Homo sapiens: one gene and its partners. The protein of the gene in region 7 purifies or fractionates together with the protein of the main gene of each other region. This does not show direct contact. Each region holds a gene or a part of one and is shown on either strand. Other genes may lie near its edges.

Region 1 (3,500 bases), on a different chromosome or scaffold from region 7:
GATCTCAAAATATTAGTAAAATAAGTTAAATTGTTTTGAAAGGAAGGAAATGTGATAATGTAGAAATGGGGAAAAAACAAGACAGAATTGAAATATTATATTAATCAAGTACTAACCCTGGTTTGAATGGGTAAATGCAGAAGACCTTTCTTCCTTCTTTTTTTATTTATTTATCTTTTTTTTCAAAATTATACTTTAAGTTCTAGGGTACATGTGCACAACGTGCAAGTTTGTTACATATGTATACATGTGCCATGAGGAACAAATCTTAATGGGGTTTAAAAATCTTTTCTTGGCCAGGTGTGGCGGCTCATGCCTGTAATCCCAGCACTTTGGGAGGCTGAGGTGGGTGGATCACCTGAGGTTGGGAGTTCTAACCAGCCTGACCAACATGGAGAAACCCCATCTCTACTAAAAATACAAAATTAGCTGGGCGTGCTGGCACATGCCTGTAATCCCAACTACTAGGGAGGCTGAGGCAGGAGAATCGCTTGAACCTGGGAGACGGAGGTTGCGGTGAGCCAAGATCGCGCCCTTGCGCTCCAGCCTGGACAACAAGAGCAAAACTCTGTCTCAAAAAAAAAAAAAAATCTTTTCTTGGAGTCCCAGTTTGTATGACATATCGCATCAACCCCACTCCCAGAATTCAGACCAAATTGGATGAAAAGTAGGGTTGACAAGTTAAAGTACTTTTTATAAAGTTGATCAGTGAAGTCTTTTGACATTTGTGTTTGCTTGAGGCAAAAGTGGCTTGATCATCTTCTGTGAGTTCTTGTAGTTTCCAGTTCCTTTTCTTGGTCTGGAATGAGTTCAACCTTTTAAAATTGAAAACGTCATACATCAAGAGTTTACATGAGAAGAAAACTAGCCCGTTTTTTTTTTATTGGTTTGTTTTTTTTTGAGATGGAGTTTCACTCTTGTGAGTTCATGCTGGAGTGCAATGGTGCAATCTCGGCTCACCGCAACCTCTGCCTTCGGGTTCAAGTGATTCCTCCTGCCTCAGCCTCCACAGTAGCTGGGATTACAGGCATCTGCCACCACACCTGGCTAGTTTTGTATTTTTAGTAGAGACGTGGTTTCTCCATGTTGATCAGGCTGGTCTCGAACTCCCAACCTCAGGTGATCCATCCACCTCGACCTCTCAAAGTTCTGGGATTACAGGTGTGAGTCACCGTGCCTGGCCAATTTTGTATTTTTAGTAGAGATGGGGTTTCACTCTATTGGCCAGGCTGGTCTTGAACTCCTGACCTCAGGTGATCCTCCTGCTTTGGCTGCCCAAAGTGCTAGCATTTCAGGTGTGAGCCACCGTGCCTGGCCTATGTATACATTTTTGAATTGACTTGTTGATATCTGGAACAAATCCTGCTGAGATTCTGATTGGGATTGCCTTACATCTATAGGTCAGTTTTGGGGGAGAATTGACATCTTGACAATATTAATAATTCAAGATCGGACGGGCACGGTGGCTCACACCTATAATCCCAGCACTTTGGGAGGCTGAGGCAGGTGGATCACGAGGTCAGGAGTTCAAGACCATCCTGGCCAACATGGTGAAACCCCGTCTCTACTAAAAATACAAAAAATTAGCCGGGTGTGGTGACGGGGGCGCCTGTAGTCCCAGCTACTCGGGAGGCTGAGGCAGGAGAATCACTTGAACCTGGGAGATGGAGGTTGCAGTGAGCCGAGATTGCGCCACTGCACTCCAGCCTGGCGACAGAGCGAGACTGTCTCAAAAAAAAATTTAATAATAATAATAATTTAAGATCAGTCAAAGGTTAAAAAAAAACAACCCGCCAATACTGAACCTTCTAGTCCATGAAAACAGTGTAGCATACAGGTTCTGCACAAATTTTTTTAGATTTATACCTATTTCATAATTTTGCGTGCTATTGTAAATGGTGCTCATTTCTAGTTGTTGATTGCTGATATAGAAGTACAGCTGACTTTATATTGATCTTATGCCCTCCAGCCTTGATAAATCCACTTATTAGTTCTAGGAACTTTTTTAGTGTATTCTTTAGGATTTTCTGTGCAGAAAGTCGTGGTATTTGCAAACAGAGTTTTACTTCTTTCTCATCTGTATGGCTTTTCCTTCTTTTTCTTATTTCATTGCCCTGGCTGGGGCCTCCAGGATGATGTTGAGTAGGAGTGGTGAGAGCAGACATCCTCATCTTGTCCCTGATATTAAGGGAAAACAGTCAGTCCTTCACCATTAAGTATGATGCTAGTTTAGGTTTTCCATGAATGTCTTTTACCAGGTTTAGGAAGTTCAGATTGCTGAGATTGGATGTTGAATGTTGTCACTTGCTTTTTCTATATCTATAAAGCTAAAAAGATTTGTAGCCTTTTGGCTGTATCTTTTTGTTTATTTTTGTTTTTAGTAGTTACTGAAGGGATCCCTACTAGGTTACTAGTAGGGTTAATAATATGCATGCCTGACCATTTATAGTCCAGAGTTAATATTTTACCAGTTGGTGTATATAAGTCTCTTTACCTTCTTTTTGTGTTATGGTTGTATTTATAACATATAATCTACATACATTGAAACATATAATCTGCATACTATTAGTAGTGTTTTTACATTGACTTTCTGTATTCTTACATATTTTAAAGAACTTAAGAGAACAAAAATAGTCTTTTTGTCATCATTTCTTTTCCTCTCTATTCCTGAAGTGCCCTGCGTCCTTTTTATCATTTACTTCACCAGGAAGAACTGCCTTTGGCACTTTTCTGAGAACAGGTCTCTTGGCTACAAATTCTCTTATTTTCATTTAGCTGAGAATGTCATTATTTCCTTTCATTCCTGAAGGATAATTTCACTGGGTTGATTGATCTTTTCCTTCAGAACTTTTAAGATGTCATTTCAGTGACTTCTGGCTGTCACAGTTTTTGATTAGAAATCTGTGATCAGGCTGGATGCAGTGGCTCATGCCTATTATCTCAGCACTTTGGGAGGCTGAGGCGGGAAGATCACTTGAGGCCAGGAGTTTGAGACCAGCTTGGGCATCATTGTGAGACTCCATCTCTATATTTTGAAAAATAATTAATTAAAAAAAAATTTTAATCCGCTATCACTCTAACCCTAATGTGTCATTTTCCTCTGGCTGCTGTTAAGATTTTTTTTATCCCCCTCTACTCCTACTGCTTCACTTCACTAGCCTGGGCGCGGTGGCTCACGCCTGTAATCCCAGCACTTTGGGAGGCCGAGGCTGGCAGATCACGAGGTCAGGAGATCGAGACCATCCTGGCTAACACGGTGAAACCTCGTCTCTACTAAAAAAAAAAAAAAAAAAAAAAATCAGCTGGGCATGGTGGCGGGCGCCTGTAGTCCCAGCTACTCGGGAGGCTGAGATAGGAGAATGGCGTGAACCCGGGAGGCAGAGCTTGCAGTGAGCCAAGATGCGCCACTGCACTCCGGCCTGGGGGACAGAGCGAGACTCCGTCTCAAAAAAAAAAAAAAATTTAAATAAATTTCAAAAAAGATTTTCAAGTCTTTGGTC
Region 2 (3,500 bases), about 48 Mb from region 7:
CTTTCTTTCCCTGTTGTCCCTCTGTTTTCCTCTCAGTCAGATATTGCTTCTCCCCAACCCCTACCCTTAGTTTCTTTGAGTCAGTGGTAGCTGTGCTCTTGGCTGAGCTCTGCTCACACACCTCACTCCCCACCCCCAGTTTAAAAGCTCCCTGGCCCTGCAAGTGCCAAGTGAACAAGTCAGGCAGGCAGGGCCACTCCTATCAGGGGGAGTGGAGAGTGAGTACCCGTGAGCACCTTCCTCATGATCATTTTAATCACTGAGTGAAATGTCACCTTGGCCCACTGGCAGTATCCACATGTTGCCACCAAAGAATCCTGGAGTATCCACATGTTGCCACCAAGAATCCTGGAGTGTGGTGGTAAACAGCCATTAGGGTTAGACCAGCCAGACTTGGAAAAATGTATGCGCTTCTTTATTGATTTATTTATTCCTTCATTTGGTCAATAGTGATTGAGCACCTACTGTATGCTAGGTGTCATTCTAAGTCTTGGGATACTGTGGTGAACGAGACTGACCAAGGCGCTGCTTTCATGGAGCTTACATTCTAATGGAGGAGCTGAATACCAAAAATGTGAACAGATAAGTTAAGCAATTTCAGATACTGATAAAGGCAAAAATAAAGAAACCAGGCAATGTGGTAGTTGGGGGCAGGAGTAGCAAGGGCGATCAGGGAAGGTCTCTTCAAGGAGGTGACATTTGAGAGCCCTGAAAAGTCTGTGGGGTTCTTCAGAGTTTCATGTCGTCTTCTCTTATTTTACATTTTTGGTTGTGATTATAGAGTTTCCATGGAAATCAAGGCAATGAATAGTGAAAGATCATGAAAGAAAATTAGTTTTGAGGTCAGATAGCTTCTAGGCTGGAAGACCGGGAAATTGCTAGTGTTAGACTCCAGGGATTGGCTAGTTCCACAAACTAATCTAATCTAACAGTCCTAAGGAAGGATTGAAAGGAGCTGACTGTGATGCCCAGAAACAGACTTTGTGTCTTAGGATCATACCACATTTCTTCCGCTCTCTGAGACTCAAAATTATTCTCCAGGCAAGATAATCATTGCTTCTAATGATCTGTAAATAAAACAATTAGCTTTGAGTTAATTAAGTAAGAGATAGGGGCTGACATACCCTGTTTTTTTTTGTTGTTGTTGCTTTGGGGTTTGTGTGGTCCTTCTGTTTCAGTTTTATTTTATTTTTTATTTAACTTATTTTTTTGAGGGGGAGGGACAGAGTCTTGCTCTGTTGCCCAGAGTAATCTGTGCTGGGATTACAGGTGTGAGCCACTGTGCCTGGCCTTTTCCAGTTTTATAAATCAAGAACCTCATTTTCTTTTTTTCTGAGACAAGGTTAGTCTCTGTGGCCCATGCTGGAGTGCAGTGGCATGCTCTTGGCTCACTGCATCCTCTGCCTCCTAGGCTGAAGCCATCCTCCACCTCAGCCTCCCAAAAAGCTGGGACTACAGGCATGTGCCACCACACCTGACTCATTTGTGCATTTTTTGTAGAGATGGGGTTTCACCATGTTGCCCGGGGTTGATCTCGAATTGAAGAGCTGAAACAATCTGCCTGCCTCAGCCTCTCAAAGTGTTGGAATTATAGGCATGAGCCACTGTGCCTGGCCAAGAACCTCATTTTCTTTATCTGCAAACTTAGGTGTTGGATTAGATATATTTTTGGGTTCTTTCCATTGCTCACATGCAATAAAGTATCCGAATCCATTTTTGAGAGTGCCCTTCACATTCAGTACTTAGTCCATCGTTTAGGCACCTGTGAGGCATGATCTCTGCCCTCAAGAAAAACAGACCATGGGGCAATCAAAATCTAGGGGCAGGGAAGGGAGAGATCTATGTGAGCAGTGGTAGTGGAGAGGTGTCCAAAGGAAGGGGTTCTTGAGTTGGCTCTTGAAGGAGGAAATGGGAAAAAGAAGGGAGAACATTCCAGGTAAGAAAATGAGCTATGAAAAGGGGTCAGAGTCAGCGTCCCCTTGCTACCAGCTGAACATGCGTAGTGTGAAGATGAGACTGAGCCCGTGATATGGGGGAAATGTACCACACGAATTAGTAATATTATCTAGACTTATTCTTCACAATGTTGGGTGAACAGAGTACTTTCCAATGAATATGCATAGTGTGAAGATGAGACTGAGCTCATGATATGGGGGAAATATACCACACAAATTAGTAATATTATCTTGACTTATTCTTCATAACGTTGGGTGAACAGAGTACTTTCCAAAAACACCCGAGAACTCTTCCAGTTTTAGACAAGATAGAGTAGACACACTTGTGTTTATTTTTCCTGCTAAGGATGTTATTTATAATACAAGCATAAGAAGACCTGAAAAGTGAAGAGAAAAAGACAGACTGGCTAGGAACCTAAGGACCTAAGGAACAACACAACAGACACAACTGAAAATCATTTGTCATGCCAAGAATCAGGAATACCTAAACCTGAGTGAGGAAAGGCCATCAGCAGATCTCAACAGCAAGGTGACTCAGATAGTGGAATTATAGGGCAAGGATTTGAAAACAGCTATCATAAAAATGCTTCATAAAATTACAGATACACATGAAACAAATGAAAAATAGTCTCAGCAAGAACTGGAAAGTTTCAGCAAAAACCTAGAAGATAGAAGAATCAAATGAAAATTTTAGAACTATACAATAGCCAATAAAAAAGTCACTGAATGGGCTCATCAGCAGAATAGAGATGACAGGAGAAAGAATCAGTGAACTTGAAGGTAGAACAATAGAAATTACCTGACAAAGAGCAGACTTAAAAGAAAAAGTAATGAACAAAATGAACAGAGTTTCTGGGACCTGTGGGACTATAACAAAAGATGTGACATTCACATCATTGTAGTAACAGGAGATGAGTGTGGGGTTGAAAAAGTGTTTGAAGAAGTAATGGCTGCATTTTTGTCATATTTGGCAAAAGACATAAACCTACATTTTCAGTGAACCCCAAGAGGATAAACTCAAATTCATGCCAAGACATACCATAGTCAAACTTATGAAAATTAAAGTCTTGAAAGCAGTGAAAGGAAAGCAGCACCTTACCTATAGGGTAAAAACAATATGAGTGACAGCAGATTTCTCAGGAGAAACCATGAAGGCCAGAAGGAGGTGGTACATTTTCCAAGTGTTGAAACAACTGTCGACTCATAATTCTATAAGACATTCACAGATGAAGGAAAACTAAGAGAATTTGTCATAATAGAACTGCTCTAAAAGAATGGCCAAAGGAAGTTCTCTTATCAGAAAGGAAATGGTAAAAGGAGACCTGGAACATCAGGAAGGAAGAAAGAACAATGGGAAGAGTAAAACTCTGAGTGAGTGTAGTGGGCTTTTCTTCCTCTGTTGACTTTTGAAGAATTATGTTTGACAGTTGAGGCAAAACGATAACATTCTCTGATGTGTTAAAAAAAATAGCTGAAAAAAGAAAAGAAAGAACAGTACCTGAGAAGGAAAATAAAATCTCACTGATACAATCTTTGGCACCTCCT
Region 3 (3,500 bases), on a different chromosome or scaffold from region 7:
AAAAATTAGCCAGGTCTGGTGGTGTACACACCTGTAATCTCAGCTCCCTGGGAGGTGGAGGTGGAGGCAGGAGAATCGCTTGAACCCAGGAGGCCAAGAACACGCCGCTGCACTCCAGCTGGGTGACAGAGAGAGACCCCGTCTCAAAAAAAAAAAGTTGGAGGAAATTCTGTCTATTCAATTGGAAGATTTCTACTGCTGGCTTTTATTAGCCCCCACCCTCATCTGTCCTGAGTCTCTGTTTTCTTGGGAACCAGGTGGGAGGCATGGAGTGATCACAAGGACCTAGATTTGAATTAATTCTGGCTCTGGTCTCCTGGATGGGGACCTTGGGCGGGTACCTCTGCTTCTCTCGGCCTTGGTTTCCTCCTCTGTACAATGGGGTTAACCCTGCAGCTATAAAAGTCCTGTTGAGCACCATGCAGGGTGAACTGTGATTTTGTGGTGGGAACCAATTGCCATGCTTTGAGGCTGATGCCTGACCCCAGGCCCTGTTCCCACTGCTCCCTCTCCTGCAACCCCACAGCCTCACTCAGGGCTGTCACTGAGCCAGTGCTGAAGGGCTCAGCACCAGGTCATGCTGTGCCTTCACCTTTGCTCAGAGGAATATTTATTTGCCTGGGCCTTGGGAGCAGTTGCTTGACCTCTCTGAAACTCGGTTTCCCTATCTGTGCACACAGTATAATAACAGTAATAGAGCCTTCCTCCTTCATCAAATATCTGTGAGGAGTCAACGAGCAAGTCTGAGTGAAGCTGTGGTCTAGCGCCCCGCACGTGGGGAGTGCTCACAGATGATGGCCTTTGTGGCATGGGACCCTGACCCCCACTGGCCAAGTTTATCCCTCGACATTTGGTGCCAGCCCGTGTTCCCCACATCCTCCAAGCCTGGGACCTGCTGTACCCTGCCCCCGCCTGCCCCATACTGATCGGGGGCCCTGCTCTCAGTCTAGAGCAGCGCTCCTTTGTGACCACCTTTAGTTATTTATTTTTTAACATTTTTAAATGTTATATTGATTTGCAAATCGGGCAGCCTCCTCAGCTAGAGTTGGTGCAGAGACACCCCCCACCTTTTTTTTTTTAAAGCCTTTTTTTTTTTTTTTTTTTGAGACAGAGTCTTCTCTGTCACCCAGGCTGGAGTGCAGTGGCACCATCTTGGCTCACTGCAACCTCTCTGCCTCCCGGGTTGAAGCCATTCTCCTGTCTCAGCTTCCCGAGTAGCTGAGATTACAGGTGCCCACCACCACGCCTGGCTAATTTTTGTATTTTTAGTAGAAATGGGGTTTTGCCATGTTGGCCAGAATAGTCTTGAACTCCTGACCTCAGGCGATCCGCCCGCCTTGGCCTCCCAAAGTGCTGGGATTATAGGCATGAGCCACTGCGCCTGGCCTTTTTTTTTTTTTTAAACCTTTTTTGACATGTTTATCATTTATTTCATTTTTTTCTATTGTGGTAAAATATACATAACATGAAATTTACCAATTTAAACATTTTAAGTGTGTAAGTCAGTGGCATTAGGCACATTCATATTCTTATGCAACCTTCACCGCCATCCACCTCCAGAACTTTCATTTTTTTTAAGATGGAGTCTCGCTCTGTCGCCCAGGCTGGAGTGCAGTGGCGTGATCTCGGCTCACTGCAAGCTCCGCCGCCCGGGTTCACGCCATTCTCCTGCCTCAGCCTCCCGAGTAGCTGGGACTACAGGTGCCCGCCACCACGCCCGGCTAATTTTTTTTTGTATCTTTAGTTGAGACGGGGTTTCATCATGTTAGCCAGGATGGTCTCGATCTCCTGACCTCGTGATCCGCCCGCCTTGGGCTCCCAAAGTGCTGGGATTACAGGCGTGAGCCACCGCGCCCGGCCCACCTCCAGAACTTTTTCACGGGGCAGATATGGTGGCTCATGCCTGTAGTCCCAGCACTTTGGGAGTCTGAGGCGGGCGGATCACGAGGTCAGGAGTTCGAGACCAGCCTGGGCAACATGCTAAAACCCTGTCTCTAAAAAATGCAAGAGTTTTACTCTGTCGCCCACGCTGCAGTGCAGTGGTGCAGTCTCGGCTCACTGCAACCTCTGCCTCCCGGGTTCAAGCAATTCTGCCTCAGCCTCCCGAGTAGCTGGGATTACAGGCATGCACCACCATGCTCGGCTAATTTTGTATTTTTAGTAGAGATGGGGTTTCTCCATGTTGATCAGGCTTGTCCTGAACTCCCGACCTCAGGGGATCATCCTGCCTTGGCCTCCCAAAGTGCTGGGATTACAGGCGTGAGCCACAGCGCCCGGCCTGCTCAGCTAATAATTTTTGTATTTTTAGTAGAGACTGGGTTTTGCCATGTTGGCCAGGCTGGTCTCAAACTCCTGGCTTCAAGTGATCCGCCCGCCTCGGCCTCCCAAAGTTCTGGGATTACAGGCGTGAGCCACTGCGCCCAGCTTCCTTCCTCTTCTTGATGGTCCTTTAGACTCATCCTTTCTGACTTTCCAGGCATCCCCTCTGCAGGCTACACATCCCTAGACCTCCAGGTGGGGCTCTTGTGAGATGAACTGCAGATCCAGCACTCTCCTGGCTGACCAGCCTGTTGCTCTGTGTCCTTCTGTTTTTTCACTGAGATATAATTCACATACCACAAAATTCACCCTTTCAAAGCATACAATTTAGTGGCTTTGTATATTAAGAGTTGTGCAACCATCACCACTATCTTTTTTTTTTAATTACATTATCACCATTTTGCAACTCCTTATGAAGACAGATCTCATCAATGATCATTAACTTTTTAGCTTCCCCCAAAGAGAGACAAACAAGCATTATATAGTTCCTGGTGGAAGAACTCAACACCGATTATGAGGCAGTTCTGTTGCTAAACGCTAGGAGTTGAATCTGTTAAAAATTCTAGATGCAAGTTCCAGTTTGGAGGAACTATAGGAATGGAGGAATACAGTGACTGGCACCACAGGCCTCCAGGGGTTATGGTAAGTAGGCAGATATGAGCAGGGCAGGAGAGGGCCCCCTCCCACCAGGAACAACACCCTCATCAGCTAAGCCATCACCACTATCTAATTCCACAATTTTTTTTTTTTTTTTTTTTTGACAGAGTTTCACTCTTGTTGCCCAGGCTGGAGTGCAATGGCGCAGTCTCAGCTCACTGTAACCTCTGCCTCCTGGTTTCAAGCAATTCTCATGCCTCAGCCTCCCAAGTAGCTGGGATTATAGGCACCCAATACCACGCCTGGCTAATTTTTGTATTTTTTTAGTAGAGACGGGGTTTCACTATGTCGGCCAGGATGGTCTTGAACTGCTGACCTCAGGTGATCCGCCCGCCTCGACCTCCCAAAGTGCTGGGATTACAGACTTGAGCCACCGTGCGCGGGGCCATTCCACAGCGTTTTTATCACCCTACAAAGAAACCCCGCCCAGTAGCAGTCACTGCTAATCCTGTCCTTCACCCAGCCTCTGGCAGCCACTTAACTGCTTTCTGTCTCTATGGATGTGGTTCTGGACACTGTACATG
Region 4 (3,500 bases), on a different chromosome or scaffold from region 7:
ATGGTGACTCACGCCTGTAATCCCAGCACTTTGGGAGGCCAAGGTGGGCAGATCACGAGGTCAGGAGATTGAGACCATCATGGCTAACACAGTGAAACCCCGTCTCTACTAAAAAATACAAAAAATTAGCCAGGTGTGGTGGCGGGCGCCTGTAGTCCCAGCTACTCGGAAGACTGAGGCAGGAGAATGGCATGAACCCAGGAGGCGGAGCTTGCAGTGAGCCGAGATTACTCCACTGCACTCCAGCCTGGATGACAGAGCGAGACTCCATCTCAAAAAAAAAACAACAACCATGAAACTACCCAAATTAATCATTATTACTATTGTTCTAAAAAGCCAATGCTAACTGAAATGAATTGTCTTTGTTCACCATACTTTCTCACATTTATATTCCTTTCATTTTCTTCTTCCTGAAGTATACACTTAAGTAGTTTCTTTTTTCTTTTTTTTTAGAGATGGAGTCTCACTCTGTCACCCAGGCTGGAGTGCAGTGGCACGATCTCAGCTCACTGCAGCCTCCGCCCCCTGGGTTCAAGCTGGGACTACACGCATGTGCCACCATGCCTACCTAATTTTTTTATTTTTAGTAGAGATAGGGTTTCTCCATGTTGGCCAGGCTCGTTTCGAACTCCTGACCTCAAGTGATCCACCCGCCTCGGCCTCCCAAAGTGCTGGGATTACAGGCGTGAGCCACTGTACCCAGCCTCCTTAAGTAGTTTCTTAAATCAGTTTGAAAATGATTATTATTTCACCGTCATTTTTGAAAGACTGTTCAGTAGGCACAGAATTCCAGGTCAAAAGTTACTTTCTCTTTGAATTTAAATATTGGAGCCTGAGTACAGTGGCTCATGCCTGTAATAGCAACACTTTGGGAGGCTGAGGTGGGAGGATCACTTGAGCCCAAGAGTTTGACACCAGCCTGGTCAACATAGTGGGACTCTATCTCTACCAAAAATTAAAAAAAATTAGGTGGGCATCATGGCATATGCCTATAGTCCCAGGTACTCAGGAGGCTGAGGAGCTGACCCCAGGAGGTTGAGGCTGCAGTGAGCTGTGATCACACCACTGCACTCCAGCCCAGGCAACAGGGTGAGACCTCCGTCTCAAAAAAACATGTAATAATTTAAAGATAAAAATAAGGATTTTAGTTCATTGTCTTATACTGTACTTCAAAAATCTGTTGTCAGCTTACTGGTCCTTCCTTTCTAGGTAATTGGTCTTTTCACTTGGAAGCTTTTAGCTTTTAAGATCTCAGGTTTATCCTTGGTGTTCTCCAGTTTTACTTTACAACATACACCTAGATGTAGGTTTCTATTAATTTATCTTGTTTGGGACCTTGCTTTCTTATGCTGAGAAATTCATATCCTGGAAATTGCAGTCATTATCATTTTCTCTCCTGGAGAGACTAGAAGCTGGAAGTGCCCTTCCCTCTTCTCTCCTTTTATCTATGTATGTTGTGTACTGGACCTTCTCATTCTGTGTTCTATCTTAACTTTGTCTTTCTGTGTTCCATTCTAGGTAATCTACTCAGAGCTGTATCCTCAGGTTCTCTCATTTTGTCTTCAGTTACGGGTATTAACCCCTTATCAGATAAGTGGTTTGCAAATAATTTTTTCCCAGTCCGTAAGTTGCCTTTTCATTTTGTTGCTTTGTTTCCTTTGCTACACAGACACGTTTTTTAGTTTGACGTAGTCCCATTTATTTATTTTTTTGTAGCCTAAGCTTTTGGTGTGATATCCAAAAAATCATTGCCAAGGTCAATGTCGAAGAGCTTATCGCCTATGTTCTCTTCTAGGATTTTTATGGTTTCAGGTCTTAACATTTAGGTCTCTTATCCATTTGGTGTTGATTTGTGTAATGGTGTAAGATAAAGATTAAATTTACATTTTTTTTTTTTTTTGAGACAGAGTCTTGCTCTGTTGCCCAGGCTGCAGTGCAGTGGCACAATCTCGGCTCACTGCAACCTCCGCCTCCCAGGTTCAAGTGATTCTCCTGCCTCAGCCTCCCAAGTAGCTGGGATTACAGGTGTGCACTACCACACCCGGCTAATTTTTCTATTTTTATTAGAGACGGGGTTTCACCATGTTGGCCAGGCTGGTCTCAAACTCCTAACCTCAGGTGATCTGCCCGCCTCAGCCTCCCAAAGTGCTGGGATTACAGGCATAAGCCACTGCATCCGGCCAAAGGTCCAATTTCATTTTTTCTTGGAGACAGGATCTTGCTCTATCACCCAGGCTGGAGCACAGTGACACAATCACAGATCATTGTAACTTCAAACTCCTGGGCTCAAGCCATCTTCCCGCCTTAGCCTCTAAGTAGATGGGACTACAGGCGTGCGCCACTATGTCCAGCTAAGGTTTGTATTTTTTGAAGAGACAGGGTCTTGCCATGTTGCCCAGGCTGGTCTTGAACTCCTGGGCTCAAGCAATCCTACCTCGGCCTCCGAAAGGGTTGGGATTATAGGCGAGGGCCAACCAATTTCATTCTTAACACTGACGCGTGCTAACTTCTTTAGTGTACTTTGCACAGCACCTCTTGAACTCATTTGGTACTATCATAACATGCAGGGCTTCATACAAGAGAGTACTCACCTGTAAGATGGGCGCCGTGCTAGGATCCCGTGGGCTTTCTGTGAGGAGCCTATGCTGTCGGATGAGTCCTGGGACTCCTCACTTTCTGATAAAGATGATACCTAAAAAAGAACTGGCATTAACATGATGAACAATGCAGGTGGGAAAAGAAACAACTGAATTTTTACTTTTAGAAAAAAATGATCTGTCTCCTGCCACTCCAATTCATTTGTACATTAAATCTAAAGTCTAAAAGAAAGGAACAAAAGGAAAAGGAAAAATGAGAAAGTTTATTCCAGGAGCCCAACCTATTAAAGGAATATCAAATATAGCAGGCCCAGAGCTGAGAATAAAGTCTGTCCCCCAAATGAAGCAGTACTATTTTACCAGAGTTAAAAAGACCAGGCTCTGATGTCATTCTCCACCCTATTTCTACACTGATGCACATTACTTAAAAGTGTTGTTTTATTACTAATCTACCTGACATGCTAAGTTTGAAAAACCTGTTATATATTCAACTGCTGACATTGAGACGAATATTAAATATACAAGCCTGTAGGTCTGGGAAGAGGTCTGGGCTAGATACATAAATTTTGGAGGTCTAGCTTTTTAGAGTCCTTAAAGCCATGAGACTGGATGAGCTCATAGGGGTAAATAGAAGAGGACTGAGGACTAACCTCAGGAACACTAAGAGACTGGATGAAGAGGAGGAACCAGCAAATGAGACTAAGGAGTCACCAGTAAAGAAGAGAACCAAATGATTGAGCTGTCCATGGAAAACTAGTGAAGACAGCATACTGAGGAGAAAAGAATGATCAACCATGTCCAATGCTGTTTACAAGCTGAGATAAAATAAAGACTGAGAACAGACCATTCGATTTAGCAAGGTGGAGGTCACTGGCAATGGCAGGTATAAATATATGCCATTTT
Region 5 (3,500 bases), on a different chromosome or scaffold from region 7:
CTCCCCCTTAACAGACCCGTATCAGCAACAACTTCTCCCCAAGCTAAGCAGCAGTGGGTGGGCTATCCACAGGGTAACACTCATCAAACAGCAATATGGAGTTGGAGATGGCAGTGGTTGTGGGTGGTGACCAAAGGACTGAGAAATAACATGCACTGGACTTACCCCCTGTTCGAAGAGCTGCAGCAAGCATCTCCCTACACTTCAACCGCACAGAATCAGAAGTGCTTGGTGCCCGAGGAAAGGATGAAACATAAGTATCTCGAGCATTTGTCTCATCCTTTCTGTTGCTTACATTGCCGCTGGAAGTACTGAAATACGCACAAACACCCCAAAAAGAAATCAAGAACAATCCTTTCAAAGTAACAATACTACTATCATGCTGTAAAAACAAAATTTGGGGTCTAAATAAATGACACAGTATCTCAGTGACCTTTATGTGATGGAAAAAAAATTGCCTGCATACAGATTAAAAAGAAGTTAAAAATTTTACAATTTAGTAAAGTGACAAGTATGCCTTTTTTTTGAACTAAACATTTTATCTTTGATTCTCATTTTAAATATTAAGCAATATTTTTAATAGAGAAAATACCCATTATAGCTCAGTACAATAAATGAAAAGCAATGATCTTGGTATAAGGAGAGGGATGAAGGGATGGGACCAGAGAATGACAGCTTTCTTTTTTGAGACGGAGTCTTGCTCTGTCACCCAGGCTGGAGGGCAATGGTGCAATCTCGGCTCACTGCAAGCTCCACCTCCCAGGTTCACACCAGAGAATGACAGCTTTCAACCAAAACTAGAGATAGAGAGAGAGAATGCTTGAAAAACTCTGTTTCACTGGGCATGGTGGCTCACAGCTGTAATCCCAGCACTTTGGGAGGCCAAGAGAGGCAGATCACTTGAGGCCAGTAGAGTTCAAATCCAGCCTGGGCAAAATGGTGAAACCCCGTCTCTATTAAAAATACAAAAATTAGCTGGGCGTGGTGGCACACGCCTGTAATCCCAGCTACTTGGGAGGCTGAGGCAGGAAAATCGCTTGAACCCAGAGGCAGAGGTTTCAGTGAGCCAAGACTGCACCACTGCACTCCAGCCTGGGTGACACAGCGAGACTCCACCTCAAAAAAAAAAAAGAACAAAAAGAAAAAGGAAAACCTTGTTCCACTTAGACAGTGAGTTCCCCAGTGAGACAAATACCATGTGTACTGATGAGTCATGAGGCTACAAAATGGTGTGTTTCTCCCCAGAAACATCACCTCGATATGAACATTTAGGCAGTTTTATAATTTTCCAGTCAACCTAATCCTTTCAATTGCTTCTGAGTAGCTTCTTACGTTGGATTATCACTAAAATGGGTTCTTTCCAAAATAATCTTCATGATTACAATTAAGCTTTATCACATTGAAAACAGCTGCCATAACCCTTTTCAAAGACTGATTAAATCATCCACCATCCATAGATGTGGTTTGCTGCAATGCTACAAGAACATACTCCCTTGCCTTCTCTCCAAAACATAACCACTGTTAAACTTCACAAACAGGTGCCTGTGGGTCAGACGGACATTAGTACCTTTTAAATTTAGTCAGTTCCTTTTTGAAGCCTTCACTGATTTCCCCCTGTATTCCCAAAATATTGATTCACACAGGTTTGTATATGATAACTTTTCATACATTTTCTTCTCTATCAGACTGAGTTTCTCAAGAGCAAAAACTAGGATTTACTTTTCTTTGTATTTTCATTATGTAGCATAATGCCTCTCAGTGATAAATGAATGAGCAAACTAATGCTTAAAAACCCATTTATTATTTTTTTTTTTAAGACTCCAGCCTGAGCAACTGAGCAAGACTTTTCACAGTGGTGAAGAGAGCAAGAGTTGTGCAGTGGTGCCATCACAGCTCATGCAGCTTTGAACTCCTGGGCTCAAGCAATCCTCCTGCCTCAGCCTCCTGAGTAACTAGGACTACAGGTGCATGCCACCATGCCCAGTTAATTTTAAAAATATTTTTTGGCCGGGCAAGCTGGCTCATGCCTGTAATCCCAGGAGTTCAAGAACAGCCCGGACAAAATAGTGAGACCCAGGGTCTACAAAAAGAGTTTTAAAAATTTGCCAAACATGGTGGTATGCACCTGTGGTCCTAGCTACTTGGGGGCTGAAGTAGGGGGCTCGCTTGAGACTGAAAGGTTGAGGCTGCAGAAAGCCTTGACTACGCCACTGCACTCCATCCTGGGTAAAAGAGCAAGACTCTGTCTCCAAAAAAAAAAAATAATCCAACAAACAAACCTTTTTTTTTTGGTAGAGAAAGGGTCTATGTTGTCCAGGCTGGTCTCAAACTCCTGACCTCAAGTGATAATTCCGCCTCGGCGTCCTAAAGTGCTTGAGCCACCGTGCCAGGCCCCAAAACTCATTTCTTTTCTTTTTTTTTTTTTTTTTCTTTTGAGACAGTCTTACGCTGTCACCCAGACTGGAGTGCAGTGAAACAACCATGGCTTACTGCAGCCATGACCCCCAAACTCAGACGGTTCTCCTGCCTCAGCCTCCCAAGTAGCTGGGACCACAGGCATGTGCCATCACACCTGTCTAATGCTTTTTATTACTTGTAGAGACAGGGCCTCCCTATGTTGCTCAGGCTAGTCTCAAACTCCTGGGCTCAAGTGATCCCCCTACCTTGACCTCCCAAAAGTGCTGACATTACAGGTGTGAGCCACCACACCCAGCCAAAAACCCAGTTCTTAAACACTTTGATTAAATGCTTTTGCTTCTGTGTCTGTAGCCAAATGCTCCACAGGAACCAAGGGAAATTGCCCATATGGGCTGAGGGAAACTTTTCCTCACTAGTTTCACTACTGCTGGTCCCACTTCCTACATTCTGATCCTTCCTTTCTAAGCATTTAAACACATTACTTTCTTCTTAAATTCTTGCACCCAAAATATAAAATCCTGCTTAGCTACAAGCAACTTAGATTTAACCTTCTATCTTTCTTTACATGACTCCTCAAAATTCATTTCTCAATCCTCCTGTATTTCTGTGTGTGTTGGGGCGGGGATGGGGTGTAGATAGATACCAATCAGTTACTTTATCAGACTTCACATACAGTAATTTTCTTTTGCAGACAGGCTCTATACCTACACGTCAAGCACGTAAAACTGATAAAAGACAACGAGAGGCCAGGCGCAGTGGCTCACGACAGTAATCCCAGTACTTTGAGAGGCCAAGGTGGGTGGATCACTTGAGGTCAGGAGTTCGAGACCAGCCTGGTCAACATGATGAAACCCCATCTTTACTAAAAGTACAAAAATTAGCTGGGTGTGTTGACGTGCACCTCTAATCCCAGCTACTCGGGAGGCTGAGACAGGAGAATCGCTTGAACCTGGGGGACAGAGGTTGCAGTGAGGCAAGATTGTGCCACTGCATTCCAGCCTGGGCAACAGAGCAAGACTCCGTCTCAAAAAAAAAAATAAAAACAAGGCTGGGCGCGGTGGCTCAGGCCTGTAATCCTAGCA
Region 6 (4,039 bases), on a different chromosome or scaffold from region 7:
GGGGGCCCCACCCGCCTCGGCCTCCCGAAGTGCTGGGATTACAGGGGTGAGCCACTGCGCCCAGCCAATGCTGTCTTTTAGGCAACAAAAAGAGAATTGATTATACTTTTGGTAATTAAGACCAACAAGTACAAAATGCATTGTGAAGGACGAAAATAGACAATCCTTACTGGAACTCCCCGGGACAGGCAGGGTAAGACCCATATTTCCTACCCTTCTTTGCACTTAGATGTGAACAATATTTATTAACTACTGGATTGTATACCATTGCTGCTATAACAAATTACTACAAATTCAGTAGTTAAAACAACACAGGTGTATTGTCTTACAGTGCTTAAGGTATTAAGTCTAAAATCAAAATTTGCAGGCTCTAGTTCCTTCCTGAGGTTTCAGGAGAGAATCCGTTTCCTCCTTTTGCAGCTTCTACCTGCACTCCTTGGCTCATTGCCTCTGACATCACTCCAACCTCTAGCTTCTGTGCTCACAGCTCCCACTACTGACTTTGAACTTCTTGTCTCCATCTTATAAGGACCTTTGTGATTCCATGGGGTTCACTGGATAATCCTGGTTAATCTTCCCATTTTGATCCTTAATCACATCAGCTAAATCCTGTCTGCCACATAAGGTGACATATTCACGTGTTGTGGGGACTAGGAGGTGCACATTTTTGGGGTGCCATCATCCTACCATACCTGAGAGTTCAACGAGAAGTTATTGTATTCAATATATTCTGCAGAGATCATTTTTACCTTAGATTGTTTTAACTACCCACCTCGTTTACCACTCGGCAAAGGTCTTTCCATTCTGAAACCAGCCTCTGGTCCACAGAACTAACTAGTGGTATGAACTGAAATTTGCTGATAGAAAATATCACAAACACACAGCCGCCGTTCTTTTTTATTCTTGGTTTGGTAGAGAATTACAAGATAATCAAGGCAGCTTTCCCTATTAACGCACGAGAACAACGGGGCCTACCCGCGCCGCCCTAGGCAGCCGGGAGCAGCAGTAACGCCTCTAGGGCGCCATGGCAACCACGCGGGCTGGACCGCCTTCTTCCGCGGCTCTTCTAGTGTGCGCGTCCCTGGCCCGGCCTCCACTCCGCCCGCGTGGAGCCCCGGCCTGGCCGCCTGCCCGCCGCGCTCTGTGACGCCCGCCGCGAGGGCCGCACGAGGCCCGGCGTGCGCCCCCGCCTCTCCCGAAGCGCCGGGCCCCACGCCGCCCCTCCTTTCCCTTTCCGCTCTCTCCGCCTCCGGAAGCGCGGGCGCGCGGCGCCGGGAGCCCGTTCAGGGCCGCGGGAGTGCGCCAGCGCCGCGCGTGGGGCTGTGGTGGCCGCGGCTCTCAGGTGAGGGGCGCGCGAGCGGCTCCTGGCTCCCTGCTCGCGGGGCGCCCGCCACGCTCCTTTCCGTTCGCATCCGTCTCCCCGCTCCGGAGCCCAGGCGGCGGCGAGTACTCGGGGTGGGTTTAACGAAGCCTGCGCGGACGGTGGGAGACCGCGCCCCCACGACAGGGGCGCCCGCGGCGGCGGGTCGCGGCGCCGTTCCACCCCGGTCCCCTGTGAGAATGGCGGGTCCCGCCCTCTCGCGCGTTCCGGGTGGCTTTGAGGGTCAGGATCAGCCCTAAATTGAGATTGGGCCGCGACCACATGCCGGGCCCTGACGACTTCTTCCTACTTGTAGGGACTCGAACCTAACCCACGAGGCCCGAGGGGTTATCTGCCTTCCGGGGACGGTAGGGGATGTAGACAAGAGCCTAGCGTTCCTGGAAACAGGTGTTTAATTTGGGCCGGGATTTTCATGTACCCAATTGGGCATCTTGTTGGAGGCCTACTGTGCTGTTTAACTACAGAAATGTATTGTCACAGTAACAAGATGACAGTTTAAAAAGTGCCCGGTGCTTTTCTGTGTATTTTCCTGATGTTTGGTGAAAGCATTAGTCTTGTTATTGCTGGTCTGTAGGACCTGGCAAGTGGGGCGTGCCCAGTGACTCTCAGGCAGCTTTGATAAAAACTTACCTGTCTCTTTTTTTTATTTTTATTTTTTGAGACAGGGTCTCGCTCTGTGGCCCAGGGTGGAGTGCAGTGGCACGATCATGTCTCACTGCAGCCTCCCAACTCCTGGGCTCAAGCGATCCTCCTGTCTTGGCCTCCCAAAGTCCGGGGATTACAGGCGTGAGCCATGCCCCTCCTGGCAAAACTCTGTCTTGATTGAGCACCAAAGGGTTGTTATGGTCTGATGAACTATCCTTTAATTTTATCCTTTCCTAGTCTGTTGTAAAGAGAATCTTAACTACTTTATTAAGTCATTTTTCTTATTCTCTGGTAAATTGAATCACTTACCTCGTAGTAAATGTTATCAAAAGAATTGCTCAGTGGATGGGATTGTTGGGTAAATTTTCCTGTAAATTAAGTCACATGAGTGTCGAAATCTTTACAGTAACTCTGTTGGATATTATTAACTAAAATTTAAACCTGAAAAGTCTCACAGGCACCGGACTATGCACCAGGGCGCATGAACTGTGACCACTTAGGGAGGCAGCTGGCTTCCAGCTCTTGGGGACTGCATGACCTTATCATGGAAATGCAGATAAAGGCATAGTTGTGGTTTGTGCTTCCGGAGGGGTGGGGGAAGATGGCAGGAAACTATCAAGGAAACTGGGTTGAAACCCGGTGATTTTTTTTGTTTGTTTGTTTTTTGAGATAGGATCTCACTCTGTTGCCTAGGCTGGAGTGCAGTGGCCTGATCTCGGCTCACTGCAGCCTCAGCTCCCAGGTTCCAGCGATTCTCCCACCTCAGCCTCCGGAGTAGCTGGGACTACAGGCGAGAGCTACAACGCCCGGCTAATTTTTGTATTTTTTGTAGAGGTGGGGTTTGGCCATGTTGGCCAGGCTGGTCTCAAGCTCCTGGGCTCAAGTGGTCTGCCTGCCTGGGCCTCCCAAAGTTACAGGCATGAGACTGTAACATGAGCCACCGCACATGAGCCTCCATGCCCAGCCACACACATACAAGGCGATTTTTCTACCCTCGTGGGTAGCAAAGAGCATGGCTCAATCTTAAATCTCCTAACTCCAAACTCCTTTGTGGGATAAACATTCTTTGAATGACTAAATTCATCAGGTTCTCCTTTGGGTACTGGGGTTATAAAGATGAGGAAGTGACGAGGAGCTCCCAGTCTGGCAAGGAGACAAGTGTAGGGGATGGGGGGAAAAACAAAAATCCTTTTTCCTTTAGCTGGGTCTGCAGCTGGGGCTGTAAGGCAGATTAACAGGAGAAAAGGCATACGTATTTTATGTTAATTTTTACAATGACACAGGGCTTTCCTAGAAAAGAAGTGGATAGGCCAGAAAGTTTCTATACGGTGTTTAAAAGATGATAAACTGTGGAGATACGACATGAAGAGATCATAAAACCAGGTGGAGGGTTAGACCTCTAGGGATTGAAACTATGGGACGGTAAATACAGGCATACCTTGGAGATATTTTGGTTGCTTGCAGACCACCACAATAAATTAAATCTTGGAATAAAGCGAGTCACATGAATTTTTTGGTTTCCCAGTGCATATAAAAGTTATGTTTACACTATACCGTGGTCTGTTAAGGGTACAATGGTATTATGCTTAAGAAATGTACATACGTTATCTAAAAAATAATTTATGGCTAAAAAATGCTGTCAATCATCTGAGCCTTCAGGGAGTTGTAATTTTTTTTTGCTGGTGGAGGGTCTTGCCTCACTGTTGATGGCGGCTGACTGATCAGGGTGCTGAGTGCTGAAGGTTGGGATGGCTGTGGCAATTTCTTAAAATAAGACAATGATTAACTTTGCTTTATTGATTGACTTCTTTTCACAAAAGATTTCTGTAGCTTGTGATGCTGCTTGACAGCATTTTATCCAGAGTAGAACTTTTTTTTTTTTTTTTTTGAGGCGGAGTCTTGCTCTGTCGCCTGGGCTGGAGTGCAGTGGTGTGATCTGGGCTCACTGCAACCTCCGCTTCCTGGGTTCAAGAGATTCTCCTGCCTCAGCCTCCCAAGTAGCTGGGATTACAG
Region 7 (3,500 bases):
AATCCTTGAGACAAAAACCCAAACTTTATACCAAATCCTTTCATCCAAAATCTTATATTCAAATGAAGTGAGAATTCCATTAAGGAAACAATATTTTTTTTTTCAACTAATTTTTATAGTTACATCAGCCTGGGCTAATTATACAGAAAATTTATACAAATACACACAAAACCAAAAATACCAAACCAAGCAACAACAAAAAAACAACCCCCAAACCCAAAAACTCTCATTCCATAAGGTGACAAATTTTACTTCTGAGAGGTAGTACAACCAACCAAATGAATACTGTACGTGCATTAACTGAGGCACTTAAGATCACCCAACCTTTTTAATTTATAACCAAATCTCTCCTCTTCAGGATTTCAGTGCTCATGAACAAGTATTATATTAGATTAATGGTCTCAATTTATTCTGACAAAATCTTACTTTGAAGTTTAGTCATTTAGACCTTAAAGTTACAAAAATAAAGTATTTCTATCTCAGGCAAGTATTTAATTTCTTAAAAGCTAGTAAGAAATGAAAAGATCAATGTGGAGAGAAGTATGATTTCTTAAAAATGGGTACATATTTTAGTTTTTTAATTGTGAAATACATTATGACCTGTAAGAACATTGTTCTTCCTATTCTATTCAGGGTCATTTTAACATGTGAGCCTTCAGCTTCATTTTGTACACTACAAACAGGAAAACATAAACATCATGAATCAGTTTAGGCAGAGATGTGATTAAGAATTGTAAAAGATGGCTTTCATAACATACATAAAATTCCAAACACTTTGCATGTGAAAATTTTCTGAATTATTAAGCAGTAGGGTGATCTCAGTGAGACTTGGCTTCATATGAAATGTTTCCATTAAAATTTTAAGTTTGCCTTAAAACAAAAAAAAACTTGGAAAGCAAAGCTCCCAAACCAGCTAAGTTAGAAACTGCTCAGTTTCTGAATGAAAATGACACTGTTTTTTATTTTTACTCTACTGAATTGAAAGAACAGAAAAAGAACTACAGTTGGTATAGAGAACTATTAGGCCATCTATACAGACACCTGAGAACCAATTCTTCTCTACGTTTACCATCTTCTGCAGCCACTTGCTTCTGCTTTGTCATTCACTGACATTTCAACTCTTTCAGTTACTGTATCTTCAGATGCTGACTGGACATGGCTTTCTGACTGTCCTCCAGTGTAGGTGGGGGTGCTGTACTTTAAAAGGATAGATTTAAACTGCATCAGAGGTGCATCTGTGCGTACACCCATTGGGTCAAAATGAGTTCGGCTTACTCGAAAGCCTGCTTGAGATAAATAGCACAAAAACTTTTTTAACCTGCAAAAAGGAAAGGAAAGAAAAAATAATCAGGTTCTTGTATTTTTATTTAAATCACAATATTATTAAAATATAAAATATATATACTTTGTCATTCACTGGGTGTCTTACTTTGGCATATTCATTCCTTTAATGCTGTGTCTGTGAATGTTGTAATAAAAGGGAGGATGTTCAGTACTGACATCAGTCTTTTGCTTCTTGCCTAAATTTGTGATCATTTCATTACTTTTTCTCTTTCCTGCAACATACACATACAAAGTTAGCATGCTCTTAAAAATTACAAGCCAAATACTTTTATAACTATATATTTATCTCAAGTATAAATCCTGACACATTATTTCAACCTGACTATCCAATCTTAATTCTTATAATTTATTCTATTTTCACGGTCCTTCACTTATGTAATTTTCATATTAAACTGCTGAATCAGAACTTCCTTTCTACCTTCTTCAACTTCAAGCCACACTCTATTTCGTCTCCTGTAGGAAGCCATCTGTCAATCTGGGGCTAGTCACTTCATACATTTCATTGTTGTTAATACTACACTACACTACTCAGAGTTTGATTAAGTTGTCATTTTTTTTTCTTTTCTTATAGTTCCTTAATGTGTGTAAGTCCTTTCTCCCCAAGTTATATTCTAAGTTCCTAAGGACAATGTCTTTCATTTTTATACCTGTATTTCTACTGAGTGATCAGTATTGGATACACAGTGGGTCTTTAGTAATCACAAAACAAAGAAAAACAACACAAAGTCTTGAGAGTTTGGACACAGAAACTGACATAAGGTCAATGTTATGATCTCATTGCCTATTTCTCATCACAGCACTTAGTTTTTTCATTTTGAGTGAAAGGAGGCCAGCTAAGATTCTAGAACTGTATCCTTCCAAAAATCACAACATGAAAACAACTGAGATATCCAATACTATAATGAGATTTTGCCTGGTGTTCAACCCTTGATTATTTATATATGAACGTTATGGTCAAATCTTATCTCTTCAGGGAAAGTAATTAACATCTGCTTAAGCAAAATATTCAGAAGCTGCCAGGAGCAGTAGCGTACACCTGTGTAACTGGGACCCAAGTCCCAGCTACTTGGGAGGCTGAGGTGGCAGGATGGCTTGAGCCTAGGAGTTTGAGTCTAGCCTGAGCAACACAGTGAGACCCTGTCTCTTAAAAAAAAAAAAGTATTGAAAAGGCAAAGTTGATACATAAAAATAAATTACATTCAAAATAAATATAAATTATTGCTGAACTGTTGCCTCTTTACATAAAAACATAAAGCAAAAAGGACAACCTGGGATCCATCCATCAAATCAGAATTATAATTTGAAATCTAAAATTTGAAACTGCATGAAATCTAATGAGGCACCTAGTCAAAGGATAGATATCCAGATTTAGTACAAGTTCTAGGAGCATCTGAGGCAAAAAATCTGATGTAATACGTTAATAGTGAGTATCATCAGCAGTATATAGATTTTTTTTTTTGGCCTGGTAATTTCTTCTTTTTTAAAAAATAATTTCAACTTTCTTTATCGATTAAAGGGTATATGTGTAGGTTTGTTACGTGGGTATATTGTGTAATGCTGGGGTTTGGGGTCCTAACAACCCCAGCACCCATGCAGTGGGCATAGTACCCAACAGGTGGTTCTTCAGCCCAGGCCACATCCCATCCCTCCCCCATCTAGTAGTCCCCAGTGTCTATTATTCCCATCTGATGTCTGTGAGTACCCAAAGTTTAGCTCCCACTTGTAAGTTAGAACATGGGGCTTTGGTTTTCTGTTCTTGCATTAGTTTTATTAGGATAACGGCCTAGAGTGCCATCCATGTTGCTGCAAAGAGCATGATTTTGTTCTTTCTTATGGCTGCATAGTATTCCTTAGTACATATGTTCATTTTCTTTATCCAGTCCATTGATGATGGGCACCTAGGTTGATTCTGTCTTTGCTACTGTGAATAGCACTGCAATGAACATATAACGTATCTTTGACAGAATGAATTATTTTCCTTTGGGTTTGCATAGTACTATCATTTTAAGATTTTATGTGTTGACCAATGGTCTTAGAATAACCATATAATTTAAAAGTTATAGAAGAGCCCACAAAAATTAGTCTAATTTCCTTAATTTACTTATGAGAAAGGCTCACAGATTAAAAACAAATTTTTTTTTTGAGATGGAGTTTGG

What was found.
Region 1: the proteins of TRMT1L (region 7) and CRCP purify together in Homo sapiens (affinity purification with mass spectrometry; one large-scale study listed by BioGRID and IntAct). This does not show direct contact.
Region 2: the proteins of TRMT1L (region 7) and NTPCR fractionate together in Homo sapiens (co-fractionation; one large-scale study listed by BioGRID). This does not show direct contact.
Region 3: the proteins of TRMT1L (region 7) and POLR3H purify together in Homo sapiens (affinity purification with mass spectrometry; one large-scale study listed by BioGRID and IntAct). This does not show direct contact.
Region 4: the proteins of TRMT1L (region 7) and ATF1 purify together in Homo sapiens (co-immunoprecipitation; one large-scale study listed by IntAct). This does not show direct contact.
Region 5: the proteins of TRMT1L (region 7) and TCEA1 fractionate together in Homo sapiens (co-fractionation; one large-scale study listed by BioGRID). This does not show direct contact.
Region 6: the proteins of TRMT1L (region 7) and CFAP97 purify together in Homo sapiens (affinity purification with mass spectrometry; one large-scale study listed by BioGRID and IntAct). This does not show direct contact.

The regions. Positions count from the first base shown.
Region 1 is NC_000007.14:66,135,347-66,138,846, forward strand, and holds part of CRCP (DNA-directed RNA polymerase III subunit RPC9), read left to right. Parts: intron 1-3,500. UniProt on the Homo sapiens protein: DNA-dependent RNA polymerase catalyzes the transcription of DNA into RNA using the four ribonucleoside triphosphates as substrates.
Region 2 is NC_000001.11:232,971,111-232,974,610, forward strand, and holds part of NTPCR (cancer-related nucleoside-triphosphatase), read left to right. Parts: intron 1-3,500. UniProt on the Homo sapiens protein: Has nucleotide phosphatase activity towards ATP, GTP, CTP, TTP and UTP. Hydrolyzes nucleoside diphosphates with lower efficiency.
Region 3 is NC_000022.11:41,534,471-41,537,970, reverse strand, and holds part of POLR3H (DNA-directed RNA polymerase III subunit RPC8), read left to right. Parts: intron 1-3,500.
Region 4 is NC_000012.12:50,795,101-50,798,600, reverse strand, and holds part of ATF1 (cyclic AMP-dependent transcription factor ATF-1), read right to left. Parts: intron 2,704-3,500; exon of another isoform or gene 2,693-2,703; coding exon 2,592-2,692; intron 1-2,591.
Region 5 is NC_000008.11:53,987,949-53,991,448, forward strand, and holds part of TCEA1 (transcription elongation factor A protein 1), read right to left. Parts: intron 312-3,500; coding exon 166-311; intron 1-165. Other genes in the region: LYPLA1-TCEA1 readthrough, read right to left, coding at 166-311.
Region 6 is NC_000004.12:185,201,201-185,205,239, reverse strand, and holds the start of CFAP97 (cilia- and flagella-associated protein 97), read left to right. Parts: upstream 1-1,239; 5' UTR 1,240-1,342; exon of another isoform or gene 1,343-1,768; intron 1,769-4,039.
Region 7 is NC_000001.11:185,118,954-185,122,453, forward strand, and holds part of TRMT1L (tRNA (guanine(27)-N(2))-dimethyltransferase), read right to left. Parts: intron 1,557-3,500; coding exon 1,430-1,556; intron 1,319-1,429; coding exon 1,066-1,318; 3' UTR 1-1,065. UniProt on the Homo sapiens protein: Specifically dimethylates a single guanine residue at position 27 of tRNA(Tyr) using S-adenosyl-L-methionine as donor of the methyl groups. Dimethylation at position 27 of tRNA(Tyr) is required for efficient translation of tyrosine codons.